Linked DNA regions of Homo sapiens. The protein of the gene in region 2 purifies or fractionates together with the protein of the main gene of each other region. This does not show direct contact. Each region holds a gene or a part of one and is shown on either strand. Other genes may lie near its edges.

Region 1 (3,500 bases), about 45 Mb from region 2:
AGGAAGGAAGGAGCAGTCTGCTAGTGGAACAGCAGCTCTGACACCATGTGTTAGTGTTCTCTTTCAGTAGGCCTGGAAATGAGTATCTTTAATTGGAACCGATTGGGAAATAGGGCTTCAGGTGCTCAATATGCTGTACATTCAGTGGTAAGAGCCAATTGTAGGATTATTAGTAGGTCTTGAAGGTAAGGGGAAATGACAATCTGATTGCTCCTGAGGAGAAACTGTGAAGGAAAAAAGTGATGTGTCTAATAACAAGAAAGGAATCAGAAAATTTTGAGTAGATTTGGCATTTTATAGAACTGTGAATTCATTGGTTAGGTCAGAAAAAGTGTTATCTGTGGTAGAAGACTTCCAAAAGTCCACAAGTTAGATGTACATTTGAATTTTTTGTAACTCTTAAACATCTTTCTTCTACTTCCCCTCTTTTCCTGCTTGGTTTCTCCTCTGTTTTGTATTTATTGGTTGTTCCAGAATTGCTTTTCATATGAACCAAATATGAAATGAAAACCTAACCCTTTTTTATCTCACTGAATTTTATTGCTACTTTTCAAGTCTCACATAATGTAGTTCTTTCTAAAGGGAAAGTTACTGTGTAAAGGGCATGCTTTATTTGAACTGCTATTTAAGAGTAAATGTGAACCTTTGGGTGACAGTACCTTAGCTATAAATACTGCCTCTCTGAGCCTAGGAAATGTTATTCTGGATAACATGTAACATAACCCATTAGAAGGTGGCATATAAAACAATTATAATCTCCAAATGTATATTTACTTCCAGACTTACAAGGCGTTAATACTATCACAATTATTGTGTAAGGGTGATATAAGTTACTTCAATTTATAGATATTTTATTTTTATTGAACTCAAAATAAGAATTTAGGCTCTTAAAATCGCCTGTTTCACTTTTTTCCTCTCTTCTCATTTTTTGCTGTCAATTTTAGAAATTTTGCTAAGATATTTAGGCAAAGGAACTCCAAATCATATTGCCCTTCTTTCAGATTCTCAGTGGGCTTTTAGTTATGACCACAATAATTAATATTATTTCTTAGGAAGACATTGGAAAATTATTTTTGGCTGGACTCCATGAGTAGAAAAGGCTATGAAAAATGTTCCATCTGCTTTTCCATCTGCCAGTAACATAGCAGCTTGTGATAGCTGATTATTGAGACTTGGCTTAAATGAAATTGCCATGTGTTATTTATAAGATCTCGAGAAGAGAAAAATGAAGAAAAATGTATAGCTGAAGTTTTTCTCATTCTAAAAGGAATTGCCCTCTGTCACCATAATTAATATTTCTCTTTGCTTTTTGAGCTTGTTCATTCAGTCTGCTCTTGTTTCGGTAAATGTAGTTCTTCAGATTTTTATGTTTAGATTTTTGTTTTTTTTTTTTGGTCTCAGGGTATTAATGTTCAACATCACCAATCATCAGGAAAATGCAAATCAAAACCACAGTAAGGTATCATGTCACCCCAGTTAGGATGTCTGTTATTCAAAAGACAAAAAATAAAGGCTGGCAAGGATGTGGAGAAGAGAGAACTCTTATATGGTTTATGGGAATGCAAACTAGTGTAGCCACTGTGGAGAACAGTATGGAGTTTTCTCAAAAAACTGCAAATAGAACTACCGTATGATCCAGCAACCCCACCACTGGGAACTTATCCAAAGGAAAGAAAATCATTATATCAAAGAGACATCTGTACCCTCATGTTTATTGCAGCACTATTCACAATAGTCGAGATATGGAATCAACCTAGATATTCAACAACAGATGAATGGATAAAGAAAATGTGGTATTTATATGCAATGGAATACTATTCAGCCATAAAAAAGAATGAAATGCTATCATTTAAGGCAATTTGGATAGAACTGGAGGACATTATGTTAAGTGAAATAAGCCAGGAACAGAAAGTTAACCACCATATGTGCTTACTCATATGTGGAAGCTAAAAAAAAAATTGATCTCATAGAAGTAAAAAGTAGAACAGAGGATACTAGAAGCTGGGAAGGGTAGGGGGAAAGGATATATGGGTAATACTTGTTAAAGGACACAAAATTACGCTAGATAGGAGGAATAAGTTCTAGTGTTCTGTAGCATTGTAGGATGACTGTAGTTAACAATAATATATAGTTTCAAATAGCTAGAAGGAGGATAGTGAACATTCCTAACACAAAGAAATTATAAATGTTTGAGATGATTAATATGCTAATTACCCTGATCTGATCACAATACATTATATGTATCAAAACATCTCTGTACCTCATCAATATATATAGTTATGCCAATTAAAAAATAAAATTTACAAAAATCTTTCAGATCTTACCAAATATATTTGGTATATTTTATTTGAGGTGTCTTCATCAATTTTTTGCTGCCATAACAGAATACCATGGACTGGTTAATTTACAAAGAACAGAAGTTTATTTGACTTGGTTCTGGAGGCTGATAAGTCCAGGAGCATGGTGCTGGCATCTTGGTGAGGGTCATCCTATGGCAGAAGGGCAGAATGCAAGAGAAAAAAAATGGGACTGAACCTACCCTTTTATCAGGAGCTGACTCCTGTGACAACTAACCCATTCCTACAATAACAGTATTAATCCATTTAGGGAGGCAGAGCCCTCATGACATCATCACCTCTTAAAGGTCCTACTTCTCAACATTGTTGTCCTGGAGATTGAGTTCCCAACTCATGAGCTTTGTGGGGATGTAGTCAAAACTACACAGCATGAGAGAAGATCTAAAAGCAAAAACCTGAGTTTACAACTGTCAGTTGTAAGAGAGTTACAAACTTTACTGCCTTGGTCATTGCTTAAACACAAAAAGCATAGTTTTAACATTTTAATATTAAAAGGAAATTGGTCCTGGAAAACTTATTTATTTATTTGCGTGATTGCTGCTACTTCTAATAAAAATGGTGAAGAGTAACAAAAAAAAGTGTCCACAAAATTTCTGGCACTTAAAGTAATCCCTTCCTCCTTCCCTTTCTCCTTTTCTTCTTCCCTTCCTATTAGGGAGGTGATATGATATGATTCAGTTAGGAGGAGACTAGTAAAGTACTTAATGTACAGTTTTTCTGTTTTAAGTAATAATCAGGGAGATAAACTTCATGCTTTTTATAAATAATTTGTAAGAATCACAATGTTTCTTTTTTTAGTGCTCTACAGCATCGAGCTGATGTGTCCTGCCTCTGGAAGCTAGCTGGGGATGCTTGTACCTGTCTGTATGCTGTCGCACCATCTAAAGTGAATGTTCATGTTTTAGGAGTCCTTCTAGGTCAGAAAGAAGGAAAACAAGTATTAAAGAAAAATGAGCTCCTCCACCTTGGAGGAAGGTAATTTGCAAAGATTGCCAGTTAATAACATTTGAATTGAATTAAGGCATTGTAACAAAAAACATTCACTTTTATATTCCCGTAGGTGTTATGGTCGTGCATTAAAACTGATGTCTACATCTAATACATGGTGTGACCTTGGAATTAATTATTATCGCCAAGCACAAC
Region 2 (3,500 bases):
AGGACAATGTTATTCGCCAAAGACTGAGCAAAAGCAAAAAAGCACAAAAACATAACATGTGTGAGGAAACCTATGTGGCAAGGGTAGGATAACAATTTCTAGTACATGTGCTACTACTCTTCTACCCTCACTGTGTAACAGACATCACTAATCAATTAAAGCATGTTTAAAACCCATTTGACATCTCAAAATTCTTCTCAACATATAACACAAACTAGTAGAAGGAGGTAGGTCCATGAGATGAAATATACATGCTATCCTAACCCTGGAAAAAGAAAGTGGTGGGACTTGAGGCAAAGGGTAAATTAAGAACAGATTATGAATAACCATGAATGCAAGGCCAACAAGTTTAGATTTTATCCTGTGGACAACAGAGGATGAACAAAGGACTTTAGGAAGAATATTGATGTGATTAATTCTGAAAGATATGTGAAGAATGGATTTGGACAGACAGAATGAAGGCAGGAAGAAAGAACAGTTAAGATGCTATCATAAAAGTCCAGGCAAGAAGCAATGAGACCTGAATTTCAGCAATGGGAAAATCTACTGCATGTTCTAAAAGAAAAATGAAGTTTTGGATTTTATTATAACCATTTTATTACGGTTTTAAAATGAAAATTTGGGAAAAAGTAATATTCTAGTCAGAATTCCCAAATAACACTCAAAATGGAAAAGAAAAAACAAAGTAAGGTAAAGACTAGAATTAAAGAAGTGAATCACAATGATACCCAAAATTACTCGACTATAAATTCAGAAATAGATATCTCAGGTTTAGCATCAAGAAAGAGAACATCCTCATGACCAGACTAATACTCAGCAAGTCTTTTCTTCCTCTCAGGGCACTAATACGCTAGCCAAACAACAAACGCTATTCACCTTACATGCCCCTACAATACAGGGTCAAACTCATACTCCCGGTGAGATGCAGACAGCACTAAAGTCAAATTTAAAACAGAAGTCTGAAATCATGTAGAAGCTCAACTTTATCCAAACATTTAAAACTCCACACTTCTTTTAAGAAACGTAATTTATATGAAATAAACCTTCTGGAAATAATACCATTCTACTATTTATTAATTCATATCCTAGCCTTTAAACTCCAAAATTCTTGGTATGGAAAACAACTTATCTGTAGCACTTTGGAAAATATGTACAAAAAACAACTCTCCTAACACTTCTGCAGAACGTTTAATAAATGAAACTATTCTAATTAAAAATTAAAACTTCACTGTAGCTCAAAAGCCCAAAGGGAGTAAAACGTTTTTTCTATTTTGAAAAAGGAATTCTTTAGCTATTGCAAACAAAGGCTAGCGCAGTGATGTGAAATCCAAGTACAACATGTTAATAAAGCTGGCATTACTGTTTTAAGACCTAAGGATATTCACATTAAGGATAAAATTATCCTGTAGTGAATGCCAACAATGCATTTCATACTACACAGACACATATTCAAGGGTTCTACTTTGTTCCAATTCTTTTGTGTCCCAGTAACAAACTCTCAAATTGGGATCCTTATCCTCTTAAACTAAAATGAAATATATGAGCTTGGACATAAAATTTACTTGTGCTACATTATTCATTCTGAGAAAGCAAATCAGATGAACAATTTAACATAATCTAATTCTGAACCATAAAGATATGGATTAGTCAGTGATGAGCAGGTCTACTTCTCATGATGTCATTCCAAAGTCATTATTAAATTTTACACATGTTATTCTTTCTTCAAATCAATCACAAAACAAGTCATCCCGAGACTGAGGTCAAATTCCATTCTAACTAAAAGATCTCCAAATCTGAAGTAATGGTCTACTTACTAAGTAATACTCAAAGACCAAATTCCAGAAAAACCCTCCTCCTGTACCTCCCCCCAACTTAAAAAAAAAAAAAATCAGTCTTCTCCTTTTAGCTCACTGTAATGGAATGTGACCTGTACTTAAGGGCTTTTCCATTCCTTTTTTTCTGCTTACAGAATATGAAGCAGACCTATTCTCTCTCACAAGGGCAATATGCTTTTAAAAGAAAAAAAAGTGAAATGTACGAAGTTAATAATGTATTAATTAGAACAAACAAAAGTAAAATAATTTACTAGATTTCTCACATGTGAGTTGTCCTCCTATTAGAACAATGCATGACACTTAGAATGAGTGTATTTTTTACTTTTTTTTTTTTTGAGGCAGAGTTTCACTCTTGTTGCCCAGGCTGGAGTGTAATGGCGCAATCTCGGCTCACTGCAACCTCCACCTCCTGGGTTCGAGCAGTTCTCCTGCCTCAGTCTCGTAACTGGGATTACAGGTGTGCGCCACCATGCCTCGCTAATTTTTGTATTTTTAGTAGAGATGGGGTTTCACCATGTTGGCCAGGCTGGTCTCAAACCCCTAACCTCAGGGGATCCACCCACCTTGGCCTCCTGCAGTGCTGAGATTACAGGCATGAGCCACTATGCCTGGCCAGAATGAGTGTATTTAAATGACAATTGAATTTTTATTTTTATTTTACAACACTGATCAGACATCTGAAAGATTTATGATTTGTATCACTCCTAATAAATTAAGCAGGGAAGAGGAGGTTAAAACTGCACCTACTTAAATAAATCTTCTTCACATACAATATAATATTGCTATAAACATTTTCCATGACAAATCATTTTTATTACTGAACTTACACTTAAGTACCTAATCATAGACAGAACAGGAAAGTAAGCACTTAAGAAATGTACTTTGAGGCCAGGGGCGGTGGCTCACGCCTGTAATCCCAGCACTGTGGGAGGCCAAGGCGGGCGGATCAAGAGGAGAGATTGAGACCATCCTGGCCAACACGGTAAAACCCCATTTCTACTAAAAATACAAAAATTAGCCGGGCATGGTAGCATGCGCCTGTAGTCCCAGCTACTCAGGAGGCTGAGGCAGAATTGTTTGAACCCAAGAGGCGGAGGTTGCAGTGAGCCAGAATCACACCACTGCACTCTAGCCTGGCAACAGAGCGAGACTCTGTCTCAAAAAAAAAAAAAAAATGTACTTTAAAGTCTAAACTTAAACACTTTAATTAATCTACCTGAAGTTCAGCTCCTCATTTTAAAAAAAGAAAGCATTTAATTAGATAATCTTTAAAGTTATTTCTAAGATACTTTAACCTGCCGGGTGTGGTGACTCATATCTGTAATCCAGCACTTTGGGAGGCTGAGGTGGGCGGATCAGGAGGTCAGGAGTTCCAGACCATCCTGGCAAATATGGTAAAACCCCGTCTCTACTAAAAACACAAAAATTAGCAGGGCGTGGTGGCAAGCGCCCGTAATCCCAGTCACTCAGGAGGCTGAAGCAGGGGAATCGCTTGAACCCAGGAGACGGAGATTGCAGTGAGCCAAGATCGGGCCATTGCACTCCAGCCTGGGCGATATAGCGAAAACTCCGTCTCAAAAAGAAAAAGATACTTACTTTAAACCAAAGTTTCTTTTGTTTTGAGACAGAGTCTAGCTCTGCTGCCCAGGCTGGAGTGCAGTGGCA
Region 3 (3,500 bases), on a different chromosome or scaffold from region 2:
AAGATGTCTTGGAATAAATAATAAATCAATAAATATAATAAGATTTTAAAAAGGAACTATCATATTTTAAATGGTAGGTTTGCATAACTAATGAAAATAAAATCTATTTCTGATATTTTCAGAAATCCAAATGGGAAAAATGCTTGTGGATACAAAGGATAAACATACCTCCCTCACTGTGTTTTTTGTGAGACAGTCTCTCACTCTGTCACCCAGGCTGGAGTCATGGTTCACTGCAGCCTCAACCTCCCAGGTTCAAGCAATCCTCCTGTCTCAGCTTCCAGAGTAGCTGGGAGTACAGGTGCAAGCCACCACGCCCAACTAATTTTTTTTTTTTTTTGAAACAGTCTCACTCTGTTTGGAGTGCAGGCTGGAGTGCAGTGGCACAATCTTGGCTCACTGCAACCTCTGGCTCCCTCATTCAAGCGATTCTCCCGTCTTAGCCCCCAGAGTAGCTAGACTATAGGCACGCGCTGCCACATCCAGTTAATTTTTTGTATTTTTAGCAGAGATAGGTTTCACCATGTCGGCCAGGCTGGTCTCAAACTCCTGACCCCAAGTGATCCGCCCACCTCAGCCTACCAAAGTGCTGGAATTATAGGCATGAGCCACTGTGCCCAGCCCCAACTAATTTTTAAAATTTTTCTTTTGTAGAGACTAAGTTGACCAGGCTGGTTTCAAACTCCTGGACTCAAGCAATCCTCCTGCCTCGGCTTCCCAAAGTGGTGGGATTACAGGTGTGAGTCACTGCACCCGGCCTACCTCCTTTTTGTTTTTTTTTTTCCTTTCCTGAGAGTCTTGCTCTGTCACCCAGGTTGGAGTGCAATGGCATGATCTCAGCTCACTGCAACCTCCGCCTCCCAGGTTCACGCCATTCTCCTGCCTCAGCCTCCCAAATAGCTGGGATTATAGGGCGTGCCACCACGCCCAGCTAATGTTTGTAATTTGTTTTTCTTTTTTTTGAGACAGAGTTTCACTCTTATTGCCCAAGCTGGAGTGCAATGGCACCATCTCAGCTCACTGCAACCTCTACCTCCCGGGTTCAAGTAATTCTCCTGCTTCAGCCTCCTAAGTAGCTGGGACTACAGGTGCTTGCCACACCCAGCTAATTTTTGTATTTGTAGTAGAGACGGGGTTTCACCATGTTGGCCAGGGTGGTCTCCATCTTTTGACCTCGAGATACTCCCGCCTCGGCCTCCCAAAGTGCTGGGATTACAGGTGTGAACCACTGCACCCGGCACCTCCTTCATTCTTATAAGAGGTTTAGAAAAGTTCTGAAATAAGGTAACCACCCAAGTTAAAAAAAAAAAAAAAAAAAAGATTTTTATGTTGGTTTGCCAAAGGGACTGAATGCCTGAAATCAGTGAGTGTTCGAAGTTAAACTATACACCCAAAGATGTAGTAAAAGGAATATGATAGTCACTAAAATTATTGGGTTTTTTTCCCATTACACAAAACCTAAGAGAATTATCAATGTAACTTCCTTATGTTTCTATTTCCATTATATTTTAACTATGATTAGCCAGTGTAACCTTCAAACTTCTTCAAGCTTTCTTGATTCTGTAACTAGTTAACAAAGCCCAAATATGACTATGTATTTTTGTTTTCAAAGTATCCAAAATATACTCACTTGATTCCATTTGTTTTTCAGTTTTACAAAATCTGTTTAATACTCCAAGTCAATATTTGGCCTAAATTATCTCTTACATTATGATATTTGAAGAAATGACTGACAACCCCACAAACCACAACAGGAGTGCAGTTCCTAATTTCCTAACCTACTCACTAAAGTTTAATGTTTTTGATAAATAGTCCTTACCACTCTGGCTGCTCTCTCCTGAGATTCACATTTCCTGCAAAACCACGGTCCAGTGGGTACTTGAACAATGCCATAGCAAGCTGTTGAAAAATGAAATGTGTTAAAATGTTAAGATTCGAAGAACTATGGAAAAATCAAATACCCTTTCAAAGCCCTATTAATCCACCTGTCACTATTCAAGTAAACTACCTCTTTACAGAGAAGTAAAACAGTTCACATCCTATTTATCACATATACAGCTTACTTAATTAACAAGTAAAAATTTTAAATGCAACTCTTTTGTGTTACCTCATCTAAATAAATCAAGGCTGGGTGCAATGGTTCATGCCTGTAATCCCAGCATTTTGGGAGGTCGAGTTGGGAGGGCTGCTGGAGCCCAGGAGTTCCAGAACAGTCTAGGCAATACAGTGAGACTCCATCTCCACAAAAAAAAAAAATTTTTTTTAATTAGGCCAGGCGCAGTGGCTCACACCTATAATCCCAGCACTTTGGGAGGCTGAGACAGGCGGATCACCTGAGGTTGGGAGTTCAAGACCAGCCTGACCAACATGAAGAAACCCTGTCCCTACTAAAAATACAAAATTAGCCAGGCGTGGTGGCACATGCCTGTAATCCTACTACTCAGGAGGCTGCGGCAGGAGAATCGCTTGAACCTGGGAGGCAGAGGTTGCAGTGAGGTAAGATCGCACCATTGCACTCCAGCCTGGGCAATAAGAGTGAAACTCCGTCTCAAATTTAAAAAAAAAAAAAAAAAAAAATTAGCTGGGCACGGTGGCATGTGCCTACAGTCCCAGCTACTCAGGAGGCTGACTTGAGCCTGGGAAGTCAAGGCTGCAGTGAGCCATAATCACACCACTGTGCTCCAGCCTGGGCAACAGAGGGAGACCCTATCTCAAAAAAAAAAAGGTATGTTTATTTCTAAATACATAATGATGTGAATGCTCCAAATGATTTAATTATACATCACATATCTAATCACAGTCTTGTTTTAAAATTGGTTTTTAAAGTTAATAATTAGCTCAAAACTGAAAATTTTCTAAAACTCTAAAAACACTAATAACCAAGTAGACTTCTGCATGAGCTTGCTAGGCAGAAATATGAAAATATCTTAAATATTGGAAAGCATTTAAAGAATATAAATTCAGGTCGGACGCGGTGGCTCATGCCTGTAATCCCAGCACTTTGGCAGGCCGAGGCAGGAGGATCACCTGAGGTCAGGAGTTCCAGACCAGCCTGGCCAAGATGGTGAAACCCCATCTCTACTAAAAATTTTTTTAAAAATTAGCTGGGCATGGTGGCAGGTGCCTGTAACCCCAGCTACTTGGGAGGCTGAGGCAGGAGAATCACTTGAACTTGGGTGGCGAAGGTTTCACTGAGCCGAGATCACGCCACTGCACTCCAGCCTGGACAAGAAGAGCAAAACTCCATCTCAAAAAAGAAAAAAAGAAATTAGCCAGGTGTGGTGGTAGTGCCTGTAGTCCCAGCTACTCAGGAGGCTGAGGCAGGAGAATCACATGAACCCGGGAGGTAGAGGCTGCAGTGAGCCGAGATTGCCCCACTGCATTCCAGCCTGGGCGACAGAGGGAGTCTCCGCCTCAAAAAAATATATAAAGAAAGAAAGAATATAAATTCACAAAACAGAGTACTACCCACTGTACAATCACAGCAGAATATAAATTCA
Region 4 (2,961 bases), on a different chromosome or scaffold from region 2:
CCATTCGCAGAATAAGCTCCAGCTTTTCTATATACAGAGAGCAAGGTGGCGCCCCACCCAGCCCTGCCCTGTGGTCCTGAGTGCACCCCGACTTGGGTCAGGGGTGCCCAGCTTCACCTCAGAACTGGTCTTCAACAGAAAGAACTGAGGACATCCCTTATAGATTGGTCTCATCCCAGGCAGGATCATTCATGTTCTTCAGGACTTTCCTCACCAGCTTCTCCAGGTCTTTGCGGGCTCTCTGTTCTTCCTCTAGAGATTTCTTCATCTTTTTGTTGTCCTGTAAATTAAGCAGACCACAGGGTGTTCACTATCTTTGGCATCGCGTAGGGCTTCCTTTCCCCAAATGTGTATCCTTGAGGAGCTAAGGCCTCGATTCATGAAATCCCACGTGAGCTGCCTATGGGCTCTGAGGTCGTGGGGATCCACGAAGGTCAAACACCTGGACAGGGTGGCAGCGGTGCTCCTGACTGTGCTGCTGTTCCCGGGATGGAAATGGTCCTAATGGCTCTTATTAAGTCCATGAATGAATCTCTATAGAACATACCGTAAGAAAATAGCTGGAAACTGCGGACGAGACAGCTCCTATCCAGCCTTTTTGTCCATTTATAACCACCTTCCAGAGTTACAGAAAGGACTGGAAGTAACAGCCACTGACAGGTGCAGGAGCAAGTGGGCGAGCACCTGCTCTGTGCAGCTGAACCCAGGCATGTCTCGGACGTAGGAGGCATGCACAAACAGATGCCTGCTGCCGGTAGGGGCAAAGCGTGAACATGGAAGCCTGCCAGCCAGGCAAAGGTGTACCTGGAAGACCTGCGGACACTGCTTAGAATGACAGCACATGTCCAGTTCCACACAGCAACCTGCTCTCAGCTCTCTATCCCAGACCACAACTCTTCTCAGGCTGTTCCTCGGCCAAAAGAACACCCCAACCTTCCCTCACCTAGCTGGGCAGAGGACCAAAGCCGCTCGTACTCACATTCCGTGCAATGAACACCCCAACCTTCCCTCGCCTAGCTGGGCAGAGGACCAAAGCTGCTCATACTCACATTCCGTGCAATACCCAGAACACCCTTGGTTAGTCGCCACTTCTGGCTCGCTAACCTGGCTTCGGGAGCCAAGGACCATGCAGTGGCAGAGGCTAATCTCAGGGGCGCCTCGCAGGATTTGTCACCAGACAGAACTTTCGATATTTTAAATTATTCTTCCAACAGAATTTGCGATGTTTTATGACATCAAAATCAGTATTGTTAAGAAAAAAAAAAGAGTTTAAACAAGTCACTTTAGAGACAACCAATTATTTTATCTGCTGGACTTCTCAAAGACATGACCTCCTTTTAGTTTTTTGCTTATGGACAATCAGCTTTTTATTTTTATTTGAGACGGAGTCTTGCTCTGTGGCTCAGACTGGAGTGCAGTGGCACAATCTCGGCTCACAGCAACCTCCGCCTCCTAGGTTCAAGCAATTCTCCTGCCTCAGCCTCCCAAGTAGCTGGGTTACAGGCACCTGCCGCTATGCCCAGCTAATTTTCGTATTTTCAGTAGAGATGGGTTTTTGCCATGTTGGTGAGGTTGGTCTTGAACTCCTGACCTCAGGTGATCTGTCCACCTCGGCCTTCTAAAGTGCTGGGATTATAGGTGTGAGCCACCGTACCCAGCCAGCTTATTTTTAATGTAATTTTCTTCTTTTCTCCCATTTGAAAAGAAAAAAAAGATTTAAAGATGGATTATGACGTACCTGTCTTAATTCTTGAACTTCATCCTTTAATGCATATACGGTATCCACAAGACTCCTGAAACAGGAAACAGAACACACACACATGAACAAGGTGAGGCATGGAGAGGACACACGAAAACTTACCAGGAGACACTACGATGCTGAGAGGAGGACACGGAGCTGCTCTGCCTTACCCATGTACTGTCTACATTCACAACTAAAAACTGCCAACCTCTGTGCATGGCAGGTTCAAGCCTAGTCAAGGGCAACTTCAGCCTATGAAGACATTTTAAAAGTGAAGCTCTGGCCAGGCACAGTGGCTCACACCTGTAATCCCAGCATTTTGGGAGGCCGAGGCGGGCAGATCACCTGAGGTCAGGAGTTTGAGACCAGCCTGGCCAACAGGGTGAAAACTCGTTTCTACTAAAAATACAAAAATTAGCCAGGCGTGGTGGCACAGGCCTGTAATCCCAGCTACTCGGGAGGCTGAGGCAGGAGAACCGCTTGAACCCGGAAGGTGGAGGTTGCAGTGAGCTGAGATCGCACCATTGCACTCCAGCCTGGGTGACAAGAGTGACACTCCGTCTCAAAAAAAAAAAAAGTGAAGCTTCTGAAGCCATACCCCCGCCCTCAGGGAGTTGTCTGGACTCTACTACCCCACCGCAGAGGTCAAACATCTGCTTTAGAATACCGGAAGACATCTTACTTTTCTTCTATCACTGTCTGACCATTACTTTTAGTTTCTTCCACTATAATTTTCTCTTCTTCTGGAAGCAAAACTTGTGGAGCAGATTCTTTGCGTGAACCTAGGATCATGAAAAAATAATAAATAAACCTCAGGCGAATACCATGGCAGAATGAAGAAAAACAACTTGACTATACCATGTCACTTAAATATTAAGTTCTAGCAATTATGCATTTAAAAACGTTCATCCAGGCAAGCTAGAGGAGGGCATCTTTTACCAGTTCTCTTCACCTCTGTCTACCGAGCCCAGGCCTCCTCATGACCAAAGCCAGAGAGGGAAGGAAACTGTAGCCCTTTTCAAATCGGAATTACGGATTGTTGAAACCCCAGCATTTTCAACAGGGAGGAAGTTAAAGGTTGTGACTGTACTGCTCTGGATATTCATCCCATTTTGAGCCATTATTCCAAGAGTTTCAGCAAAGACATATGAGACCAATCAGAACATATACAGTGAGTGTTTATACATCAAAGATCTGGCAATAAAAACATTTTACTCTAC
Region 5 (3,500 bases), on a different chromosome or scaffold from region 2:
CAGCAATCAACTAAAGTATTCCGTAATCACAAAAATGTTTCCTATAGATGCAGTTTGCACATTTATTGCAAGCCATTGACTAACCACAGAATGGGCAGATGTGAAGATCTGTGTTGATGTTGTTGGTGGTGGTGGTAGTACTGATGTTTTTAATTTTTAAGTGAAGGATGTTATATCTAAATGGCTGTGCTAAAAAACAGAACAACAGCCATTCCTAGAAATTTCTTTACTCTTCAGCTTCCAAACACGGCTGTGTGTGGTTGGCTGATGTTGGACTGCAAAAATAGTCCATTTCCTGTGGATGGTGTAATTTCTGCTGTGCAGCAAGCAGACAACAGCCCTGTACCATGTAGCTATGGGACCTTGAGACTCTCAGTACCAAAAATAAAAAGGGCTCCTCAGCAAGCTGGGGGTTTCAAACTTCAAGTTTTGTTTTTTCAGAGACAGAGGTGTCTCTCTGTTACCTAGGTTGGAGTGCAGTGGTGTCATCACAGCTCACTGCAGCCTTGACCTCCTGGGCTCAAATGATCCTCCCACCTCAGCCTCCTGAGTAGCTGGGACCACAGGTGTGGGCCACCATGCCTGGCTTCAAGTTTGGTTTTTAAACAATATTTGCAAAACCCACATTTATAGGCATCCATCAAATATATTATAAAGGCAATTCTGATCAGCCCTTTGGCCTCAATTTCCAGTGACCTTCCCCATCTGGCCAAATTTCTCTTGTCTTTTGGGGAGGGAGGGGTGAGTGGCACTGAGCCTTAGGCCAACTTTCAATGGCGCTGAATTTGGATGTGTGCTGTTCTGTGACTGTCTTCTAAACCTGGTTTCTCACAGTTCTAGTTTCTGGGATAAAGTGGATGATGTGATTCAATGAGCAACTTGAGTTAATCAGTCCTGAATAATCCAGCACACAGCTACTAGAGGGGCCCTTTTGTTCTGGATGTACAAGTTGGACCAGAAGCATATTTCTGCAAATACTGCTTAGAGTCCCACCCAAAGAGGCCAATTAATATTACAACTTCTCACAGCATATATGAGAGAGTAATAAAGTGAATGAAAGCTGTCTAGTAGGGCACAATATCTTCTTAATGCAGATTGTTTTGAAGGATAAAACATCACAGTTTGAATATGCAACGTACATAAAGTAACTCCTCACAGTCTAACTACATTTTTTTAAAAAGTAAGCAAAGCACATACATACTAGTTTACACACCACTTGGTAAGGTTGGCTAAAAGTACTGGGGAAATAGAAAACTTACACACTAGGCAGAATGAGGGAAAGAAACCTATCATGCAATGGGAAAAGGCGGTCAACTCTGCTACTAAAAGGGAGGATTGTCCAGTAGAATTTGCTGATGGATTTGGTGTTGGTGTGGGTGACCAGAGCTTCTGCCCCCCTGAGTTACAATTTACATGACACAAAAGGAATAAGGGTACTACAGTTTTCTTGGTCTTATAGACAACATAGGGCAGTAATTTTAAAACCTGTGATTGAGGGGAGGCATGTGATGGTCTAAGGAAGGGCAGCTGGATCATTGGGCAGATGTGTTTGTCTTTCATCCTACTCAAGCCATAGTCTGGAAGATTTGCCTTCGGTAAATTAAGTACTAAGAGGCTTGCAGGTACAGGAAAGCCCTGGGGAAAAGTTGGGTTCACATTTAATAAGCCTTGGCCAGCTGCTTTGCAAGGGCAGCCAGCCCAAAGAATGTGACCTGAGGGCAATGGCTGTTGCAGAGGCACTGTGAACTGAAGGCAATCTGAAGACCTTTTAAGTAACTGGCCTGCATTCCCTTTCTCTTTCTTACTGAATGGAAAAGACTCTGAGGCCATCTCTACCACCACTTCCTGCTTTTTCACCTGTTGAAAAAAAAAATGAACAACCAACCAATAACCAAACAACAGCAAATGCCCAAGCGCGCACGTGCACGCACACACATATGCACACAGCGGGGAGAGAAAGAGAAGAGAGAGGGAGAGAGAGAGAGAGACTCAAACACAAAACAAAAGCCAAAGAAGTGAGCAAACTGAGTCAAATCATTCAGCGGGACATTTCAAGATGCCCTGAAGGCACACTCCACCCAGTGGCACAGTGATGGTTATGGAAGAATTGAGGTCTTGCTACTGGACTCGCCTCGAATACACTCATCTGTTTGCTTCAAAAGCCTCCGCACCAGCTTTTCTAGGTCCCTTCTTGATTTCAGTTCTTCTTCCAGGCATTGCTTCATTCTTTTATTTTCCTATGATGGGGAAAGATTTGTTGATTATCAAACAGAGGGGGGCCCTTCCAAGGGCTCCTCCTGCTCATCCTCGGGGCAGCTTTCATCACTGACTCTCTTTCTTTCCTCGACCTTCCCTCCCTCAGCATCTATGACAAAGCAGCCTGTCGATTCTCCTGCCTGTCTCTGGGAAACCTTTTGGATTCTTCTTCCCTGCCCTGATCCTCTTCTAATTTAACTTGCTTTTCACTTAGTGTCACTTCTGTTTCAACCCAAGTGTCTATTAAGGGGACTCCCAAATATCTCTGGTACTGACCTTGTCTCCTGAGAATCGGGTCCACAATCTCAACTGTCAGCCTGGTATTTCTTCTTCTTCTTCTTCTTCTTATTATTATTATTATTATTATTATTTTATTTAAGAGATGGGGTCTCACTCTATTGCCAGGCTGGAGTGCAGTGTAATCATGGCTCACTGCAGCCTCAAACTCCCGGGCTTAAGTGATCCTCTCACTTACCTGAGATTACCTGGCAGCAGCTTGGTATTTCCACCTAGATATGTCACAAGCACCTTAAACTCATCAGGTCCTAAAGTGAACTCAGTATCTCTCTCAACACCCCAAACTTCTCCTCCTCCTGTGATTACTGATCTCCATGAAGGGGCACCACCATATGCAACCAGACACCCTGGGAAGAAGCTTCATCTTTAATCCCTGGCTCTTTCTTAATCTCAAAATCATATTATCCTCGTCCATAGGTTCAAACTCTGCAGTATGCCATCCTTTACATTCGTTTCCTCCTCCCCAGCCTCATTACCCTGCCTCAGTTCAGGACTCTGACAGGTTTCACCCTGAGTTTTGTAAGAACCTCCTAAGTGGTCTTCTAGTCCCTGGTCTCTCTCCCCTCGCATCCATCCTTCACTCTGTCACCAGATACAGTCAGTCCTCACACACAAGGCACAGTGTGCATCACGGAGCACTAGGCCACATCGGCAGAAAAGCCCACAAACCATGATGAATGGTTCTCTTTACACTTACACACTCATGAATGACTAGTCTTTTCTTAAAGTCTGTTTATGGATGTCAGAGAACAGGAAAGTTGTAACTAACTTTGGGACTCTATTGTGAACTACTACATAGAAATACAAGCAAGCCTCGGAAATTTAAATTCAAGGCTTACATGATAAAATCAACAAAACCTACCTTGATGACACAAGGAAAACAAAAATCCCCCCTCGCTACCTTGCTCCTAGGCCTTCCCTGAAAGCATGAGCAGCGTGAGGCAAGA
Region 6 (3,500 bases), on a different chromosome or scaffold from region 2:
CACTGTCATCCCCATAAATAAAGTTATTGGAATACAGCCATACTCATTCATTCATGTATTGTCTATGGCTGCTTTTGCTCTACAATAGCTGGGTTGAGTACTTGGAACAGAGACCAAATGTCTGGCAAAAGTCTAACATATTTACTATCTTGTACAGAAAAAAAATGTCAACCTACATCTATACTTATTACAATTTCAGTAAAAATACAGAGTTTAAGTAATTTGGGAAAATGGCTTTAAGAATGAAAAGGTGCAAGGTTATACCTGCTGAACAAATGAACTGTGGGCGTGAGGTGCCATTAGTCTAGGCCTGCATGTTCAGGGAAGGCCCAGGGGAGAGCCTGATGTGGCCTGGCTATTTGTCATATTTGCAAAGGGGAAGTGATGTAATTGGTCTGCAATGAACTTGATTTTCAATTGACTCAAAGATCTAAGGAGGAATAAAAATTATTTAAAAAGGAAATTAGGGAAGAATGGGGAGAATATTGGAATCATTTAATAGAAGTACAAACACATAGACTTTTAACTTTTGCCCATTAAATTTTTTTTAACATTTTATTTTCTTAAATTTTTTTTAAAAAAATAGTGATGGGGTTTCACTGTGTTGCCCAGGCTGGTCTCGAACTCCTGGGCTCAAGTGATCCTCCCACCTTGGCCTCCCAAAGTGTTGGGGTTACAGGCATGAGCCAGCCTCACCCAACCCATTAAATGTCTTTAATGTAACTTCGGGTGTATGAGAATTTGTAAGTTGACTGTGCAGATCTCTTAAAAGGTTGATATGGTGTATTTTTAGAATGTTTTAGACTGCACGTGTGTGTGTGTTTGTTTGTGTGTGTGTGTGTGTGCGTGCTATAGAAAACACAGCATGGAAACCTTGTTAAAATCAGAGGCTTTGATTTTTTATTCTAAAGCTTTGAGTTATATGTTTAATCAGATACTATGTGAAAAATTTTCATTAGGTACATATTGAAGTGTTCCATTCAAGTCTACAAGTATATCCTCCTAAGGATTTAGTTTAACATCCTTTCCCTGCTCCAACAAGGGAATGCTTTATTAGAGTTTCCTAGAAATAATGGGACTAATTAGGACCTTTCATATTACCTAGTCCAGCAGTCCAACCCATGTGGCTCCTTCAACAGCATCGCAGCCTAATGCTTTTAATTTAATTTTAAATTTTTAATGTTTTGCTGTGATTGCCTCTTCCACAGTTTGATTTTTTTGTACTGTATAATTCCATGTTAAGGTATTTAAAGCTTGAAAATCTTAGCATGATATAGCTACTTTGTTTTTTCATGTATTTTTAGCTCTGAAGTTGGAGATTCCAACCAGCTAATAAATGAGATCAGAGTCATGTGTTTTTTTGTTGTTGTTGCTCTATCACAATGTAAATGTGCCCCTAGGAAGCACCTGCTTCTATATGGTGCCTTACCCAAGGGAGTGTCTTCCTGGGGAAAAAAGTGTAGTTTTTCCAGCAGAAACTTGTGAGAGTGCAGAACCACAGAGGAGCAACAGTGTCTGAATAAAAAATTCCAGGGCAGGGAAGCAAAGTCTACCTGCAGAAAGGAAAGATTTTAGTAACTATCAAATCACAATTTTTCTTTTAAGATGAGTGACAAAATCAAGACCTTGCACTCCCCCATTTTGGGCTTACCCAAGCATCGAATAAAGCAGTAGAACTTACTTTGGTACTTGCGGGTGGCAGAGACACTTTCTACCTGTGTATGTGTTTTGGGAGCCGGCAGTCCTTCTAAAATTATATTGCTGCCATGTAATGTCCCACCTACAAAATGGATGTGGCCTAAAGCCATTTAAACATTTAAATGAAAGAGCAGTTGCAGTGTCTTTTTCAGGTTACCAGTTATACTGCCCAGAGGAAATCTTGGAGGGTATAAACCATTTTGTCACACTCTCCTAAATCCAGAGTAGCGATGGGAGATAATGGTTTATCCACCCAAAACAACCCTCTCAGTGGAGATTTCATAACCAAGGTTGCTAAATTGCCTGGTGACTATTAAATCTGGGCTTAGAAAGGCTTTGCTACTTGTGAGTTCAAGATCTCACCCTCACCTTTGCATGTACATGACCTAATTTTATGAGTTCAAACAAACATGATTAGATCCCCAGGGTTTAGATTGATGATGGCCAGACTCACAAGGGAATAATAATAATGGCATGGAGTATTTTATTAATTCACAAATGAAAAATGTATCTTGACAGTTTGGCAGATGCAGATACTCTCCTAGCCAGTCGAGGACCCTCTTTCTTATATCATAGCTGGAAATATGACAATAAATGATTGATCTCCAGCTTTCCCATTACAATATTCCCACCTAGCAGATCACCAGCTATCTGTTTCAGCCGTATTTATTTATTAGATGTGTTGGGAACAAGTAATCTTTGTTTGCAGCATCTTGTTTGATTTTTATGACCATGATTCTGCGAGATAGGACACAAGTGATTTCCATTTCACAGATTGGGAAATTGAGGCCAGAGCCTTTACTGCTAGTAGTGGACCTGGGTTTTGAATTCAGCTTTTAAGATTGCAGATCCAGAGCTCTTTGGAACATATTATACAGCTTTTCTCTCCAGGAAATTTGTGAATCCCTCTCTGTTGTTCACTATCTGAAGAGAAGACATATCAGAGGAAATAAAGGGTCTTAAAATGTTGCCAGAGCAGGGTGTGTGATGGGGGAAAGCATCGTCTTAAGTATCCTGTCATGTGATAGTAGTTTAAAAAATCAAAAAATACATCTTCCACATGTGTGAACTTGGCACATATTATTCTGAAGTATGAAATGTATTTTAGGAAGTTGAAACATCAGAAGTTTGGAAGCTTGCAGCATGATTTAGATATAAATTAATAGTCAAGCAAAAATCATCACTGGATAAGTGCAGTGGGATTGAAAACATTTTGCTTCCTCAATGCCTAGCTTCAGCTCATCAGTGAAAAATAAAGAAGGAGTAGACAAATTCAGTACTAGCCTTTGCATTCTGTCTCCACCTGAGTCATGCATGGTTGAGAAGAGGCAGGTGTGTGGAGGTGTGTGCGGCTGCCAGGGGCTCTGCGCCTGTTTTATGGTAGATAGAGGAGTTTTTAAGAGGCCTTTGTTGGTGATCTCTGGCTGCATAACAAATTACTCCAAAACTGAAAACAACGAACATCTCACATAGTCTTTGTAGTTGGGAAATTTGGGAGCTGGGTGGTGTGGCTCAGGTCACTTTTGAGAATGCTGTCAAGATGTCGGCTGGGACTGCAGTTGTTTAAAGACTTGACTGAGGCTCAAGAATCCTCTCCTAAGGCGGCTTACTCATTTGCCTGGGCTGTGAGTGCTGGCTGTTGGTGGGAGGCTGCAGTCCTCACCATGTGGACCACTGCTGGGTTGCTTGAGTATCCTCACAGCATGGCAGCTGGCTGCCCCAGAGTGAGTGATCCAAGAGCAAGCAAGATAGAAACTGCAGAGTCTTCTGTGACTTAGCCTCAAAAGTCACACTTATTTCCA
Region 7 (3,500 bases), on a different chromosome or scaffold from region 2:
CAAAGGAGTAGTAGCCTGCTTGGATCAGGTCGGGGTTCCTGAGTCTTTCTACTCCGGAAAGCAGCTTCTGTACGTCCCCAATGTCCCAGGTGTGGCCGTCCCTATCCTCTTCCTCCTCCTTCTCCAGGGTGTAGAACAGGGCAGTGAGAAACTGCTGGAAGCTGAGGTGGATGAAGGAGTAGCAGCCTTTGGAGACTCTGTCCTGGCGGAGGATGTCTCCGTCCAGGAACAGACGGAGGTCGGACTCCTGCACCCCGAGCCTTTCCAGATCCTCTCGGTGAAGCACGGACGTCTGCGCCCACAGGCCCTGCGCGGCCAGGAGGCTCAGCGTCCGCAGCGCGCCCCGCAGCTGTGCGCCCTGCGGGAACCGGCTGCAGAGGAAACGCAGGAACAGCCCCGTGCGGGTGAGGCAGGTGGGGACCGGGTCCTCCCCCTTCTCCATCTGCAGCTTCAGAGTCGTGCACACGATCCAGCACACCGCGGGGGCCGAGCCCAGCTGGAACAGGGCCGCGTTGCTCCTCATTAGCTCAAAGGCACGCATGGCTTGGTCCTCGTCTCCAAAGTGTCTCAGGAAATAGGCCCTCCTGTCCTCCTCCAGGAAGCCCTCCACCCTTATGTAGATCGGCTCCTCCGCCAGGATCCGGAGGTCCCTCAGGGCCCTGGGCCGCGTGGTGACCAGCAGGGCGGCCTTGGGTAACATCACCCTGTTCAGCAAACTCCCCAGGAGGACGGGCACCGGCTTCTTCTTCTCCCAGTCCCCGCAGATGTCCTCGATCAGCGCCCCAGGTGCGGCTCCCAGCTCATCAAAGCCGTCAATCACGAACAAGATTTTCCGTGCTTGGGCTAGGATGTGTGGAATGTCATCCTGCAATTCAGGCCAGTCCCTGAAGACCAGCTCTGCAAAACTGCACGGGCCCAGGCGGCTGAGCTCCCTGCAGCTGAGGTAGAACGCATATTTGAATTTGTGGATGAGGTTGTCCTCTGCCCAGTCTAGCATTAGTTTCTGGGCCAGCGTGGTTTTCCCAAGGCCTGCAGGACCATACAGCACCACCGTGTATGAGAAGGGCCCGGGAAGCACCCTGGGGTTGCTGAATGGGATCAGCATCTTGTATCTCTCAGCCATAACCTGGACCTCTTTGCTATCTCCAGGCCAGCTCTTCCACATCTCCCGGAACTTCGTCTTCAATATATACCTGCACCTATTGTCTTTGTCTTTATCATTGGTGAGGAGGGAAGGGAGAGAGGATGCAATCAGTTACCCATAGGGAAAACCAAAATAACAAAATGCCTTGTGTTGGCCGGGCACAGTGGCTCATGCCTGTAATCCCAGCCCTTTGGGAGGTCGAGGCAGGCAGATCACCTGACATTGGGAGTTCAACACCAGCCTGACCAACATGAAGAAACCTTGTCTCTACTAAAAATAAAAAATTAGCCAGTCATGGTGGCGCATGCCTGTAATCCCAGCTACTCGGGAGGCTGAGGCAGGAGAATTGCTTGAACCTGGGAGGCGGAGGTTGCAGTGAGTCGAGATCACGCCACGGCACTCCAGCCTGGGCAACAAGAGCAAAACTCCGTCTCGATACATACATACATAAATAAATGCTTTGTGTTACATAGGAAAGTTAAGAGGACTTCAAGTTTATAAAGAGAAATCTGATCCCAAGCTCCCTGCAGGAAGATATGGTACAGACCTGGCTTTTTTCCTTTAAAGACTTCTTTACCCAGGCAGATGACATTTCCTTTCGTTTCTGTAAACGCTACAAAATACAAACTCATGTGAGATTGACACAAAATCAGGTGTATTTCCTGTGGAGTCCCAATTAGAGAAAAGGAGGCAGGCTGATGGGGCGGGGGGGAGGGGGGGCACGGGATCAGATAAAGCAAATAAGCTACAAATGTGTTTTCCGGCCAGGTGTGGTGGCTCATGCCTATAATCCCAGAACTTTGGGAGGCTGAGGTGGGGTGGATCACTTGAGCTCAGGAGTTCGAGACCAGCCTGGCCAACACAGAAACCCCATCTCTACTAAAAATGCAAAAATTAGCCAGGCGTGGTGGCGCATGCCTGTAATCTCAGCTACTTGGGAGGCCAAGAGGCTCGAGAATTGCTTGAACCTGGGAGATGGAGGTTGTAGTAAGAGATCGCACTACTGCACTCCACCCTGGGCAACAGAGCAAGACTCCATCTCAATAAAATAAATAAATAAGCTTTCCTCCATGGTTCAGGGCATACAAACAAGAGGAAACAGGTCAGCTATAGGTCTGTTTGAGACAGTCTCACTCTGTTGCCCAGGCTGGAGTGCAGTGGCGCAATCTCAGCTCACTGCAACCTCCGCCTCCCGGGTTCAAGCGATTCTCCTGCCTCAGCTTCCCAAGTAACTGGAATTACAGGCATGTGCCACTGCGTCTAGGCTAATTTTTGTATTTTTAGTAGAGATGGGGTTTCGCCATGTTGGCCAGGCCAGTCTAAAACTGCTGACCTCAGATGATCCACCCACCTCAGCCTCCCAAAGTGCTGGGATTGCAGGCATGAACCACTGCACTGGGCCAGGTCTGCTTTTATGGTCCAGGAGATACGGCCCAAGATGTTTGGCCTTCCTGGCCAGATCACACACAGAGCTCACAAACTCCCTGTTTGCCATGAAACGCCTCAGTTTATCAAACACTTCTGCTGAAAGAAGACCGCAAGTTAAACCCCCTGTTGACATTATCAATCAGCCCAAGCCCTATTCTATAAAATCTGCAGGAAGCTTTGGTCTCCTGGCAGTGAGCTACTCATGACAACCTGCCCGCTGGGGTCTCTCTGCCAATGTCTTTTCCTACTTTCTCCAATAAATCTGCCTTCCTTTACCTACGATTGTCTTCATAAATTTCTTTACCCGCGGCTGGGCGCGGTGGCTCACGCCTGTAATCCCAGCACTTTGGGAGGCCAAGGCGGGTGGATCATAAGGTCAGGAGATCGAGACCATCCTGGCTAACACGGTGAAACCCTGTCTCTACTACAAATACAAAAAATTAGCCGGGCGTGTGGCGGGCGCCTGTAGTCCCAGCTACTGGGGAGGCTGAGGCAGAATGGCGTGAACCCGGGAGATGGAGCTTGCAGTGAGCCGAGATTGCGCCACTGCACTCCAGCTTGGGTGACAGAGCAAGACTGTCTCAAAAAAAAAAACAAAACAAAACATTTCTTTACCTGCCATGCCACCAGGCACTATTCACCCACATTTCCTGCTGAAGCATGATGATAGAGCAGGCACCACAGTACCCCAAGTCGCACCGAAATTCTTTGTCAAGATTGTGTGCTAGGCTGGGCACAGTGGCTCACGCCTGTCATCCCAGCACTTTGGGAGGCTGAGGCGGACGGATCACGAGGTTAGGAGATCCAGACCATCCTGACTAACACGGTGAAACCCTGTCTCTACTAAAATACAAAAAATTAGCTGGGCGTGGTGGCACACACCTGTACTCCCAGCTATTTGGGAGGCTGAGGCAGGAGAATCGCTTGA

The links.
Region 1: the proteins of PFDN1 (region 2) and SKIC3 purify together in Homo sapiens (affinity purification with mass spectrometry, with the first as the bait; one large-scale study listed by BioGRID). This does not show direct contact.
Region 3: the proteins of PFDN1 (region 2) and MLLT10 purify together in Homo sapiens (co-immunoprecipitation; 2 studies listed by BioGRID and IntAct, with this or other methods). This does not show direct contact.
Region 4: the proteins of PFDN1 (region 2) and ARHGEF7 purify together in Homo sapiens (co-immunoprecipitation; 2 studies listed by BioGRID and IntAct, with this or other methods). This does not show direct contact.
Region 5: the proteins of PFDN1 (region 2) and ARHGEF6 purify together in Homo sapiens (affinity purification with mass spectrometry; one large-scale study listed by BioGRID and IntAct). This does not show direct contact.
Region 6: the proteins of PFDN1 (region 2) and TACC1 purify together in Homo sapiens (co-immunoprecipitation; 2 studies listed by BioGRID and IntAct, with this or other methods). This does not show direct contact.
Region 7: the proteins of PFDN1 (region 2) and NLRP2 purify together in Homo sapiens (co-immunoprecipitation; 2 studies listed by BioGRID and IntAct, with this or other methods). This does not show direct contact.

Annotation. Positions count from the first base shown.
Region 1 is NC_000005.10:95,516,978-95,520,477, reverse strand, and holds part of SKIC3 (superkiller complex protein 3), read left to right. Parts: intron 1-3,155; coding exon 3,156-3,332; intron 3,333-3,417; coding exon 3,418-3,500. UniProt on the Homo sapiens protein: Component of the SKI complex, a multiprotein complex that assists the RNA-degrading exosome during the mRNA decay and quality-control pathways.
Region 2 is NC_000005.10:140,296,602-140,300,101, forward strand, and holds part of PFDN1 (prefoldin subunit 1), read right to left. Parts: intron 1-3,500. UniProt on the Homo sapiens protein: Binds specifically to cytosolic chaperonin (c-CPN) and transfers target proteins to it. Binds to nascent polypeptide chain and promotes folding in an environment in which there are many competing pathways for nonnative proteins.
Region 3 is NC_000010.11:21,537,232-21,540,731, reverse strand, and holds part of MLLT10 (protein AF-10), read right to left. Parts: intron 1,900-3,500; coding exon 1,820-1,899; intron 1-1,819. UniProt on the Homo sapiens protein: Probably involved in transcriptional regulation. In vitro or as fusion protein with KMT2A/MLL1 has transactivation activity. Binds to cruciform DNA.
Region 4 is NC_000013.11:111,300,310-111,303,270, reverse strand, and holds part of ARHGEF7 (rho guanine nucleotide exchange factor 7), read right to left. Parts: intron 2,524-2,961; coding exon 2,424-2,523; intron 1,794-2,423; coding exon 1,739-1,793; intron 281-1,738; coding exon 158-280; 3' UTR 1-157. UniProt on the Homo sapiens protein: Acts as a RAC1 guanine nucleotide exchange factor (GEF) and can induce membrane ruffling. Functions in cell migration, attachment and cell spreading. Promotes targeting of RAC1 to focal adhesions. May function as a positive regulator of apoptosis.
Region 5 is NC_000023.11:136,665,933-136,669,432, forward strand, and holds part of ARHGEF6 (rho guanine nucleotide exchange factor 6), read right to left. Parts: intron 2,238-3,500; coding exon 2,097-2,237; 3' UTR 1-2,096. UniProt on the Homo sapiens protein: Acts as a RAC1 guanine nucleotide exchange factor (GEF).
Region 6 is NC_000008.11:38,793,736-38,797,235, forward strand, and holds part of TACC1 (transforming acidic coiled-coil-containing protein 1), read left to right. Parts: intron 1-3,500. UniProt on the Homo sapiens protein: Involved in transcription regulation induced by nuclear receptors, including in T3 thyroid hormone and all-trans retinoic acid pathways. Might promote the nuclear localization of the receptors.
Region 7 is NC_000019.10:54,979,874-54,983,373, reverse strand, and holds part of NLRP2 (NACHT, LRR and PYD domains-containing protein 2), read right to left. Parts: intron 1,758-3,500; coding exon 1,692-1,757; intron 1,213-1,691; coding exon 1-1,212. UniProt on the Homo sapiens protein: Suppresses TNF- and CD40-induced NFKB1 activity at the level of the IKK complex, by inhibiting NFKBIA degradation induced by TNF. When associated with PYCARD, activates CASP1, leading to the secretion of mature pro-inflammatory cytokine IL1B.